Regions from separate parts of the Homo sapiens genome. Here regions 1 and 3 are each linked to region 2. Evidence: fine-mapped expression QTL. A gene starts in region 2. Each other region holds a variant in brackets. All regions are shown on one strand. Distances are from middle to middle.

The links. PIP is the estimated chance that this variant, and not a neighbour inherited with it, causes the effect.
Region 1: its variant is fine-mapped to the expression of RPH3A in whole blood (TOPMed, PIP 0.97).
Region 3: its variant is fine-mapped to the expression of RPH3A in whole blood (INTERVAL, PIP above 0.99).

What each region holds. Positions count from the first base shown.
Region 1 is chr12:112,905,766-112,910,006 of GRCh38, forward strand. It overlaps OAS1 (2'-5'-oligoadenylate synthetase 1), which reads left to right and starts at 1,197. Exons shown (of 6, transcript NM_016816.4): 1 at 1,197-1,454; 2 at 2,771-3,059. The coding sequence starts at 1,275. RefSeq lists an enhancer at 1,038-1,477. The variant C/G (reference allele first, on the strand shown) is at 1,686.
Region 2 is chr12:112,789,352-112,793,592 of GRCh38, forward strand. RPH3A (rabphilin 3A) reads left to right here and starts at 2,397. Exons shown (of 22, transcript NM_001143854.2): 1 at 2,397-2,661; 2 at 2,792-2,912. RefSeq lists an enhancer at 2,489-3,030.
Region 3 is chr12:112,887,336-112,891,576 of GRCh38, forward strand. RPH3A (rabphilin 3A) reads left to right here. Exons shown (of 22, transcript NM_001143854.2): 17 at 462-588; 18 at 2,689-2,745; 19 at 3,514-3,668. Among named protein-coding and RNA genes, the nearest start is that of OAS1, 18 kb to the right of the region's middle. The variant C/T (reference allele first, on the strand shown) is at 1,878.

The DNA of each region.
Region 1 (4,241 bases), 120 kb after region 2:
TCTATAGTCACATTCATACCCACTTTTAAATACGTGCAAATTAAGGGCAGGTTATTCAGAAATTTCTAGAAGAAGGGTGGTAACTGGGTCATTGCCAGGGAATGAGTAAACTGTTCATGGTGCTGGTGCTCATGCCAGCCAGTCTTCAATCTGGCCCTGAGTCAAGCCCCACCTCCTATCTCAAAACTATTCTGCATGGTGCTGTAATGGTGGATACATGACATGTTATGTTTGGCAAAATCCATAGAACTGTAGGACACAAGAGTGAACCTTAATGTAAACCTTAATGTAAATGGACTTTTGTTAATTATGATGTATTAATATCAATTCATCAATTGTAACAAATGTATCACAGTACTGTTAATAATAGAGGAACTTATTGGCAGGAGAGAGAGCTTATGGAACTCTCTGCACATTCAGCTCAATATTTCTGTAAGCCTAAAACTGCTGTGAGAAATAAAATCCAACCTGGGCAACATAGCAAGACCTTGTCTCTACAAAAAATAAAAAATGAGCTGGGTGCAGTAACGCATGCCTGTAGTCCCAGGTATTCAGGAGGCTGGGGCAGGAGGATCCCTTGAACCCAGGAAGTTGAGGTTGCACGAGTCATGATCATGCCCCTGCACTCCAGCCTGGATAACAAAGCAAGATCCTGTCTCCAAAAAATAATAAAATAAAATAAAAATCTACTAATTGAAAGGGAAAAAAGCATAGTATAATACCATTCTTAACAAAAAGAAAAGAGACCTGTGTTTGTGTGTGTGTTAACATTTGAAAAAAATCTGGAAAGCTCTATATCAAAACGTTTATAGAGGCAATTTTGTAGTGTTAGAATCATAGATGATCTTTCCACTTCCTGGTTTTTCTGACTTTTTTTCTTTTTGCAGTGGGCATGTATTGCTGGAAAATACCACAGACAACTGTGAAAGGATTTCATCAACAACAAAAAAAAGATAAAGAAGGAAACACAAAATCTGTTAAATAAGATTTATGTTGGCTGGAGGTTAAAATGCATTTCCAGAGCAGAGTTCAGAGAAAGGCTGGGCTGCTTGTTGCTGGCTAAAGGACAAAGGGTAAGTTTCAGGAAGCAGAAGAGTGAGCAGATGAAATTCAGCACTGGGATCAGGGGAGTGTCTGATTTGCAAAAGGAAAGTGCAAAGACAGCTCCTCCCTTCTGAGGAAACGAAACCAACAGCAGTCCAAGCTCAGTCAGCAGAAGAGATAAAAGCAAACAGGTCTGGGAGGCAGTTCTGTTGCCACTCTCTCTCCTGTCAATGATGGATCTCAGAAATACCCCAGCCAAATCTCTGGACAAGTTCATTGAAGACTATCTCTTGCCAGACACGTGTTTCCGCATGCAAATCAACCATGCCATTGACATCATCTGTGGGTTCCTGAAGGAAAGGTGCTTCCGAGGTAGCTCCTACCCTGTGTGTGTGTCCAAGGTGGTAAAGGTGAGTCCAGGCCTGCCTGGCCAGGGGAGGGGTGGCTGAATGTGCAAGAGTTGAGATTGAGAATGAGAGAGAGAGAGAGAGAGAAGCAAAAACCTAGAACCCAGGGTGCAAATGTGAGTACAGAGAGCTGAGATCTTCTGGGATGGTGGTTTCTTATTTATCCACACAGCATGTTAAAATAGATTCTGGGGTGAAATCCTACATCCCTATTATTAACAAGTGACCCTCCCC[C/G]CTACTTCCCGCTGAAGTTTATGAACCACTGTCCTGGGCGATGCCCATTTCAGAAATAGGGAACTGAATCCCAGCTCTGGTAAACAGTTTGCTAATTCGTGGCCAGGCTAGGGGCTCACCATTTCTGCAGTGAAGAATCATATGTTTTGAAAGCAAATAGCACCTGCTGGCTGCAAGACCTTGAGCAAGTCACTTAACTACTCTGTGTTCCAATTTCCTCAGCCATAATCCCCAATACTGTTGCAGTCTTGCCAGTGCACCTTAATGTAGCAGCTTCTCACTGAATTAGTACCCAAGGTTCTTTGTCCTGCATCCAAGAAAATTAAGGAACATGGACACAAACGTGAGCTTGGAGCAAAAGTTCAGTAAGCAAAAGAAGAAAGCTGTCTCCACTGTGGAGAGGGAAGTCTGAGTGGATTGCCAGATTGCAGCTGAATGCAAAAAACTTTTATAAGAAACCACTCTCCTCCCTGTAACTGTTTGAGAAACTTTTTATCAGTAAAGCTGTGCAACTTCCCTTACCTTATGCAGCTGTGGGTATATCTCTAGGCAAGCATAAAGCGCTGCTTCTCTTGTATGTATAACTGTGGATTTGTTTTAGGTAAGTCCCACTCCCTGCGCCAGTTTCAGGCAGGCCGCTCCTCCAGGGCCCAGCCTTGACCATTTACCTAACTGATTTTTCCTCTACTTTCCCTCAATACCTCATAGGGCCGTGTAGATTAAGTAAAATAGTAAGTGTGAACCACCCAGCATAAGCTAGTCCTGGGCATCGTAAAGGACAATGGGAAAAGAACACAGATCCTGGAAGAAGGCCCCCAGGTTTGAATTGTATTTGCCACCTACTAGCTGGGTGATGGGGCTGATATATTATCTCACTGAGCATCCATTTTCCCATCTGTAAAATGGGAACTAATGATAATGGCATCCAAATCATAGCATCATTGTGAGCATTATAGGAGTTTAAGACATGCAATGCCTTCAGAACAGTGGCTAGTGCTCCATAATGTTAGTGATTGCTCCTGTCATTTTATTTAGGGAGGTTTGCCTCACTAAGCATCAATTATTATTTTTGTCGTCTTTTTCAGGGTGGCTCCTCAGGCAAGGGCACCACCCTCAGAGGCCGATCTGACGCTGACCTGGTTGTCTTCCTCAGTCCTCTCACCACTTTTCAGGATCAGTTAAATCGCCGGGGAGAGTTCATCCAGGAAATTAGGAGACAGCTGGAAGCCTGTCAAAGAGAGAGAGCATTTTCCGTGAAGTTTGAGGTCCAGGCTCCACGCTGGGGCAACCCCCGTGCGCTCAGCTTCGTACTGAGTTCGCTCCAGCTCGGGGAGGGGGTGGAGTTCGATGTGCTGCCTGCCTTTGATGCCCTGGGTGAGAGCTCCCAGCTTCTTTTTCTCCCTCTTCCCATTTCTGAGCAGAAATCTCCCACAGTTTGAGAGCTTTTTGCCCCAACAGGGCATCTCTCTAAAGCAGGGTGGGAGGAGATCTTAGGATCTGTCCCGGGGCAAGAATGAATACGGTCATGATCTATCACAGGAGAGACATTAAACAGCAAATTGGCATAATGTGGGGACAAAGACATTTCTTACAGAACATCTGCAAGGCTTACTGGTTCTGTTTAAGGCAAAATGTGTGAATTTTATCTTTCTAAAATCAGGCAGCAAAGATGTGGCTTAAAGTTCATGTTACTCTCATCTTTGTCCCAACATGAGATCTCATCAAACGTATGCAGCACGTTGGGAGATAGATATTTATAATTTGCAGGAACATTTGGACAGGAAGTGTAACCTCTCAGAGGCTCCCTTGCCACATCAGGAGAATTGGTAAAACCACACTACCTGTATCATATCATTATTTTAAGTGATAAATGATCATCTACATTCAGCTCTGATGAGTAATAGGTGTTCAAAAATAGGAACTTCCAGCCAAGTGTGGTGGCTCATGCTTGTAATTCCAACACTTTTGGAGGCTGAGGCAGGAGGGTCGCTTGAGCCCAGGAGTTCAAGACCAGCCTGGGCAGCAAAGTGAAACCTCATCTCTACTAAAAATTTTAAAACATTAGCCAAGTGTGGTGGTACATGCCTGTGGTCGCAGTTATTCAGGACGCTGAGACTGAACGATCACATGAGGCCAGCCAAGGATTCGAGGTGTCAGTGAGCCACGAATGTACCACTGCACTCCATCCTAGGCACAGAGCAAGAGCAAGACCCTGTCTCAATCAATCAGTCAATCAGTCAAAACTATGAATTTCCCAGCTGTATATGAAGGCACCTCAAAACACCACAGTGAACTCACAGAGGGACACGGAATAGTTTAGATTTTAATTTTTTGAGGGAAATGCGATGACATCTGTCACACACCGCACAAACGGCTACTATTAAACTGAACTTACTGATTAGTGGCTACTAATTAATAGTTGGTCATTAAGCAGTAATTAGTGATTAATTATCAAGTAATTAGGACTTAATTAAAGGAACTGTCACAGTTTCCTTTAGTCCTAGGGCAGCCATGAAAAAAAAAATGCTGACTCTCCAAAGACACCAGGGTATGAGA
Region 2 (4,241 bases):
GAATTTATGTCACAGGATCATCCCAGAAAATATTCGATGAAAATTTTCCCCTCAAACTTGTAGAATGCATTTGAAATGAACTCTGAGAGACATCCTGGAGCATGTTCTTTGGAATCATACGACACTGAGTTTGAATGCTGTGTCTGTAACTTACTGTGAAGCCTTGAGCAAGGAATTTTATTTCTTGAGTCTAAGTTTTCTCATTTGCAAGATGGGAATAATACTAGTGTCCTGAAAGGGTCATGGTGAGGACTTCAGAAGATGATACATGTAAAGTTCCTAGCAGAAGAGCTGGCACATAGTAGGTTTTCAATAGCAGCCATCATTGCCACCACCACCACCACCACCATAATCATCACCATCAACATCATCAGCATAATCATTGTCAATCAACACCATCACTATAATCATCACTATGATTACCATCATGATGACAATTACTACCACCACCACCACCACCACCACTGAGGCAGGTGGTTCATTTGAGGCGAGGAGTTCAAGACCAGCTGGGGCAATATAGTGAGACCCATCTCTGCAAAAAAAAAAAAAAAAAAAAAATTAGCAGGGTATATTCGTGTGCACCTTGAGTCCTAGCTACTGGACAGGCTGGGGTGGGAGGATCACTTAAGCCCAGGAGTTCAAGGTTTCAGTGAGCTATGATTGCACCACTGCGCTCCAGCTTGGGTGACAGAGTGAGACACTGTCTTTTTCTTTTTTTTTTTGAGATGGAGTTTCACTCTCGTTGCCCAGGTTGGAGTGTAATGGTGCAACCTCGGCTCACTGCAGCCTCTGCCTTCCAGGTTCATGTGATTCTCCTGCCTCCACCTCCCGAGTAGCTGGGATTACAGGTGCACACCACCATGCCCAGCTATTTTTTTGTATTTTTAGTAGAGATGGGGTTTCACCATGTTGGCCAGGCTGATCTCGAACTCCTGACCTTAGGTAATCCACCTGCCTCGGCCTCCCAAAGTGCTGGGATTACAGGCATGAGCCACCGCGCCTGGCAGAGACACTGTCTTTAAAAAATTGTTTTTTAAATGAGCTCTAAATGTTCTCATTTTAACTCCTGGGTCTCATGGGGAGAAGTAAGTGACAAATGTAGTAGTTAACCCTGGGCCATCTGGATGGGAAGCTTTAGATATGAGTCTCCAATAGAGAGAGTTCTCCTTCACTTTGCAGAGAAGTTCTAAGCAGATCTTGGTCTGTTTGAGATTTCCTGGCCTTTTTCCAATTTGAGCCCTTTCCCAAAGTTAGGAGGAATAGGACTCTTGAGATATGGAGCACTGGGAGCCATGGGAATCCATTCATCTTTATATATTTCCCCTTTTGATACTTTTATTTCATTGTCCATATAGTGAATTCACTTCAGAAAGCCAGTCTGGATCTTTCGGGGAAGGCTCTTTGGCCAAGGCTCAATGGTCTGATTTAGACCTAAAATTTCCCTTCATTCTACTCAAACCACCTGCTGAAGGGTGAGGTTGGCACATGCCATCCTAGCTGGGCTGTCAATTCCTTTATCACTCTGTCCAAACATTTGTGTTTTAGGACAGGTTATGGACCATGAAATCATGGCAGTTCACAGCTTGGGTATTCTTATTGTTGCATTTTAACCTCTTGCTTCCTATCTTTAGGAAAAATAAGGTCATTATGTTATCATTTTCACAGATGGGACTTGGAAACATTAAATGACTTTTCCAGAGTTGTAAGGGGGCTGGATCTGACTTCCAGAAAACCATCAAGTGCTTATTCAACTAAGCCACCCTGCCCCTTAGAAATTTCCATTTCTTAAGCCTCAGCTTTTCTGCTCTGAATTCTGAGAAACTCCAGGTACAGGTCAAAAATCTGCAGCAATGGGGGTGAGGACAGGTCATCTGGGCGAAACTTTGAGGGGCAAAACCACTTAGGGAGCCCCCCACACCGGTGCCAAGCTCTTGTCTGAGCAGAGAGGAGCAATGCAGGACTGGGGGCGTGTGGGAGACAGGGGCTGTGAAGTTATAGTTCCTTTGCTCTGAGAGTGAGCGACAGTATTAGAAAAAGTGTGTGGTAGGTAAGCTGTCACTGACTAGACTGTGTGATGTCGAGAAGTCCCGTCCCCCACCCCTCCGGACTCCCCCCTTCTCTGCTTTAACCATCCAATTACTTAACTTCTCTGCCTAGGGGTTCGCTTCCCACCCATCCCCTCCTCCAAGGCATCTTAGCGCTGTCCGTGGTGCTGACCGCCAATCCCCTGGTTGCCGTTTCGACCAGCTGGGATCTCTGGTGCGCCCAACCTCCCCTCCCGGCCTCCCACCTTTCTTTCTCCAGGCACCGCACACATAAATCACGGGTGGGAGGCAGGCTTGGTTCCCGCTTGGTTCCCCCTGCACTGGGAAGCTGCCGCCCCGCTTCCCTTGCTCACACAGGGCTTTGCAGTAGTGGTGGCAGCCGCGGCAGAAACTGGCTCTGGGGAAGCAATTGATTCGTCTACTGCCAGCAGCCCGGAGTTGCCTACGCGGACTGGAAAGGAAGGGAGAAGGGAGAGAGAGAGAGAGAGAGAGAGAGAGAGAGAGAGAGACTCACAGAGCTAAAACCTTCATCCATGTGGAGGACAGTCTGAGGGAGCCACTGTCCCTTGTCCACTGACTCACTGGCTGGTCCGAGTTTTCTCCGCTTCTGGCAGTGGTATTTCTTTTTGTCTTGGTCCTGCATGATTTAGGGGTAGTTGATGTGTCTGTGTGTCTACGTGTGTGCACTGGTGCTTTGATTTTATTTTGGGAAGAGTAGGAGAGTCAAATGAACAATTTTCTTTCAGGCACCTCCGCTGAGCTTTTAAACCAAGTCATTGGGACTTAGCGTCTTTCTACCCGGCAGGGAAGGGAGGAGTTGGCAAGAATTTGGCTCACCCATTCCCCCTGCAAGCCTCCAGCGTCGCGGTAAGTGATATTCTCCCGGGTTGTGCAGATGGGCTAGGGGTGTTGGAATCCCAATTGTGATGTGTGTTCATGAGCTGGTGGGGTAAAGGGTAGTTGGGAGGAGAAGGGTATCGAGGAACGACTATGCTTATTTGCCTACATCCTGCAGTGTTTTATCACCTAAGCGGCATCCCAAAGCCAAATGAGATTTTGGCTTAGTGCCCAGGGAGGGGGTAAAATGTGCTCATGTTGTAGGCAATGCGATCAAGATTGTGGCTTCTGCCCAATTTGCCCTCTCCTTTGCAGCAGAAGCTGGTGAAAGTAGCCGGCAGTTCTCTGAGAGAGTTAACCCTTCGTGGGGCTGGCTAGTCTAGCATGGAGGGACTCTGGGTACTCTGACTTAGCAAGTGAGTGCTTATCCCTGGAGGGGAGGGGGTCACCTGAGACTGGAAGGGTAACTTTTGCCTGGGCACACTGGGTAAGATTTGCACAGGACAGAGCTTAGATTGTACCCTCTTCTAGGAACAGCTGAGTAATTTAATTGTGGTGATTTTTGCGAGGTTGGCTGTTCACGCTTTCCTGAGATGGAAGACCTGGGAGCCAGGAAAGGGCCACACTATGCCTGGGATGAGTGGTCAGGCTGGCCAGAAGGGAGCAGCCACTGCCTGCAGAGGAGATGATGTTTTATTTTCACAGGTGGCGTAACCTGTAAGTGATTGTATGGGGGAGCGTCCTGGCACTAGCTTGGGAGATTCTATCCTTGAGTTCATCTCAGAAGGAAGGAGGGGAACAAAGCTTGTTCAAATTCTGGGGAAAGATTCCAGGCTTCAGCTTCAGTTTTGTTCCAGGGTAGACCGTCCCCCTGCACTAGTTTCTTTTTCCAAGATCCTGATGGGGAAAGGCTGCACCAACCTGTTAGTGAGTGGGAAGTGGAAGTACCTTGAAATTGAATCCAAAAGCTCACATTTAATTTTGAAATGCTTTTGATGCTAATCTGCTACCCATCAAAAGGGGATTTCACTTTGCTTTCTGCTTTGATTACATCTACTTTTCTGGAAATGAATGCCCTTGTTTTTAGCATTTTTGCTATTATCTCAGGGGCCACCTCAGTGTTCTGCACCCCCAAGGATTTCCTTTTTAGATTCTTGCTCTTGGAGGTGGGAGGAATAAAACAACAGTCAGAGATTGGCAAGCCTGAAATATAAGCAGGGTTCACTCATTCTTTTTTTCTCTAGCCCCATAGCTAAGAAGAGATGCTGAAATCCCACAGCATGTGCCTGCTCAGGCAGGACATATGAGGCAGAAGAGGAGGGTTGTCTGGTGGTTAGTGTCAAAGATTTGGTTCTCAAA
Region 3 (4,241 bases), 98 kb after region 2:
TGCATCTCACAGACATAATCTTGAGCAAGAGAAGCCAACATAAAAGAGTCTATATTATATGATTCCATTTATATGAAGGTCAAAAACCAGACAAATGACTTCATGTGGCCAGAGGCAAAAGAGTGGCTATCTTTGAGACAGGCAGTGACTAGAAAGGATCCTGAGGATCTTTCAGTCTCTGGAATGTTTTATATCTTGACCTGGGTGGGAATTACATGGGTATATACAAATGCAAGGGTTCATCAAGCTATAAACTAAATTTATGTGCTTTACTGCATGTCAGTTATACTGCAATAAAGAAGAAGTTAAAGGTACTTGGTCCAGTGATAAATAAACAGGAAATCATATTATTTCCACATACATTACACATTCCTTACCAGTATCAGCTGCAACTCTTGGCACACAGTGGTGTCTTAATATTTGTTCCTGTTTCTCTCTCTACCCCCTTGTGTTGGTGGCAGGATCTCCGTCTGTGATGAGGACAAATTTGGCCACAATGAATTTATTGGTGAGACCAGATTCTCCCTCAAGAAACTGAAGCCCAACCAGAGGAAGAATTTCAACATCTGCCTGGAGCGAGTGATTCCTGTGAGTGACTTTACCCTGAGGATCTGATGGGAGGAGGGGAGATTGGGGGAGCTGCCTTCCTCTGGGTCTGAATTGGGGGAAATAGATCCACGGGGTATTGGGTAGCAGAGGCACTGCAGCAGGTCTGCAGAGGAGAGTCAAGATTCCAGCTCACAACCTCAGGCTGCATTCTCTCTCTGCCTTTCACAAACCCTGTGTCAGCATCACTTCGAACATGAGTTCTTCTTGGCCAAACTGGATGGACAGCATGGCAGGGGCAGCATGGGCTTCCTGGGTTCAGAGCCAGCTCTGCCACTTGCTGCTCCATGGCCTTGGCCAAGGGGCTGAACCACTCCGAGCCTCGGTGTTCTTGTCTGTAATGTGGGTGTTATAACAGTACCTGCCTCTTGGGAGGGTTGTGTTTTAAAAAATAACATAATCAAAATAGAACTTAATGCATAGTAAGCACTCATAAATTAACAGTTGTTAGTGTAGGAAATATTGCTGCCTTACCCACCTGTCAGTCATGAAGTCAGAAAGCACCATGTAGATAAACAGCAGACAGCATAGCCTAGAGTTTAAGAGTATGGGCTCTGCAGCCAGACTCTCGGGTGTGAATCCTGGCTCTGCCACTTAGGGTATAACCTGAGGCAAATTATTTAATTTCTCTGGGCCTCAGATGTCTCATCTGTAAAATGGGATACTGTAGTACTAACCTCATAGGATCTTTTAAGGATTGAATGTGATAATACATATGAAGTATTAGAACTGTCATTGTTGTTGTCAGATGTGATTCTTGCTCTTTGAGAAAATAGCAAGGATCAAAGTGAGGTTCTGCAATGGGGTTGCACCTCAGAATTAACCGGGGGATTCTAAAACCAGAGCTTTACAAGCTAAGATTTGTGGGGGTCTCCCCTGGAGATTCTGTTTTAGTGGGGTAGGGTAGGACTCAACAATCTATATTTTTAGAGATAATTCAGGCTGCCTTGCCTTACGTATGGGCCAACTTGGGCCCAGAAAGGGTAGCAAGTCTCCAAGGTCTCTGGGCACTGGCCAGAGTCCAGCTCTCCTACAACACCAGCACCCCTGGTCTCTCTGGGCAGCCTGCCTGCTCTCCACAGGGAAGCTATGGGGTGCAGGAGCATCTTCCCACCAGATGGCCAGCCTGAGGATGGAATGTCTGCATGCCATGCCATAGTTTTATAGTTCAGGCAAAGGAACAAGACCAAACAAGGAAAATTTCAAGGAAGGATTTCCACTGAATTCCAGGCTCAGAATAAATCCTTAAAGACATCCCTAGGAATGAGGCC[C/T]TTCTTCTGGGCTTTTGCCTGGTGACAGCTGGGTCTTCAGGCTTCTCTTCCTTCTCCAACTCCGTGAGTCCAGTTGGCCAGGACAATGGCCAGGCCCTTGCCTGTGTCATCAGCCTTTGGGTCTTCCCATCTTGCTATGGTGAATGCAGCCAGCCCCAGAGACATGGAGGTGCAGGACACCCAGAGGGCTGCAGCAGCCGCAGAACACTACTGATCATCTTCTTTTGCTCTTTGCCATTAAACCTTAACCCTTGCACCACGAACTTCCCCCATTATGTCCCACTGAGGGCCCCTCCCCTCTGGACCTCAGGTTTCCTCCTCTCCAAAGTGGGGAGGTTGGATTTAACCAATGGTTTTCTAACTCTGTTTCCCAGAGCCTAGAGTTCAGCAAAAGGGCCCCAGGGGCCATGAAGGCAAAAGCACCTGGTGGGTCAGACCCCAAGACCCCTGAGCCACTTCAACCAGAGAAAATGAAATCTTGTCTGTTTGTGTGTGGAATGCTCTGACACTTATTGGCTGTGTGACCTTGGGTAAGGGGCTTAACTACTCGGACCCTCAGCATCCTCATTTGTAAAATTGGAATTGTAACAGAACCTATATCATAGGTTGTTACACATTCACATAGCTTGCCATATGGCTAAGTTTTATAAATTTTAGCTAAAAGGGAGAATGCAGGAGAGCCACAGTAGCTTAAGAACCCACTTTCATGGCTCTGGATGGTAATGGAAGTATGAGGGGTTTCTGGTCCTTCTTGCGCAGGAAGATGAGCTCCATAGACAATGTTATCTTTTATTTGTTTTCTTCTTTTAAGATGAAACGTGCTGGGACCACCGGGTCAGCCCGAGGCATGGCCCTTTATGAGGAAGAGGTGAGCACTGAGCAGGAATTGAAGCCACAGTCAGGGTCTGTACTGGGCTAGGCTAGCATCTTCCTCTTCTCTCCCTCCCTGGCCCCTTCCTCATCCATTCTCTTCCAACCACCCCCCTGTTGATTTGCCTTGAGAACAACCCTTTGCCCACAAGTGATGTCCTCTCCACACCTAAGCCTCTGAGGAGGGGGAAGCCCCTTTCTCTCATACCCAGGATGCCCACCAGGTTTTTGGCCTTGTTGTCAGAAGCTTTGTTGACAATTCTACTGACTAGGGCAATGGCACACTCCTTTCTTGGAGTAGATGCATTCTTTGAGCTGTGTGCATGGCAGAAACTGAACTAAGCCTTCATGCTGTCTGCCTGGGTCCCTCATATGACCCCAAGGACTGCCCTTTAAGAATACTGGTTGTGTTAAGGGAGTCTGAGATCAGAGGCAAGAATCTGTCTGGGGCCAGGGTCAAGGCTCAGTCCTGGGTTAGAGCCAAAGCCAATCAGTGACCCGGAGCAAGTTTAGTCTGTGCTCACAGTCAGAGTCTGTTTATGTCTAAGTCAAAGGGAAGCCATTGGTCCCCATGTGCCTGAGACTGGTCCTCAACTTTCACCTTTGGCTCCTCTTTGGAGGCTAAGCCATCTGCTGTCCCTGGTACTGGCTCCCTAGAGCTGGCCAAGCTTCGCCTGCCCTTCATAGGTTCTTCCCTAATGCTCGCCATTCACATTTCCTGGCCCCCTCCCCTCCAAGGCCCACACTGCCTTTTCCCCCAATGCAGCAGGTGGAGCGTGTTGGTGACATCGAGGAGCGTGGCAAGATCCTGGTCTCCCTCATGTACAGCACACAGCAGGGAGGCCTCATTGTGGGCATCATACGCTGCGTGCACCTGGCTGCCATGGACGCTAATGGCTACTCAGACCCATTCGTCAAGCTGTAAGTCAATGCCTTGGGGCTACAGGTGGGCCCTGAAGGAGTCCTGGAGCCTTGGAAAAGGAGAACCAGACAGTTTCACCAAGATCGTTGTACACTGAGACCCAGAGAGGGCAAGGAACCTGCCCAAGGTCACAGTGAAACAAATGCCTACAACTGGCAAGAATGTGGGTCTGGAGTCTCAGGCAGTCAAACTGGTGTGTCACTTGCCCACAGGCAAAGCTCTGTGGCTCTGTCCTCTTGAGGGCCTGCTGATGGCTCTGCAACTAAGCTAATTAGTTATAGTAGCCCCATTTGTACTCCCAGGAGTTGGCCGCACACCCCTCGGACCGCTCAGACCTCCACCACCAAAGAGGCCATCTGGCATTTTCCAGATTCATTCTGGAAATGCTCAGAAAAAAAACATGCCTTCAGTCTGGGGTCTGTTCCAGCAATCTCATCATGGAGAATAAAAGGGACTCTGTTATCTGTGTTAGTCCAGATCCTCTGAGAAGAAGATGCCAAAATAGGATTAAGCAGACAAGGGGTTTATCAGGGGAAATGCCCATTCCAGGAAGTCTGCAGGGAGTCAGGGGA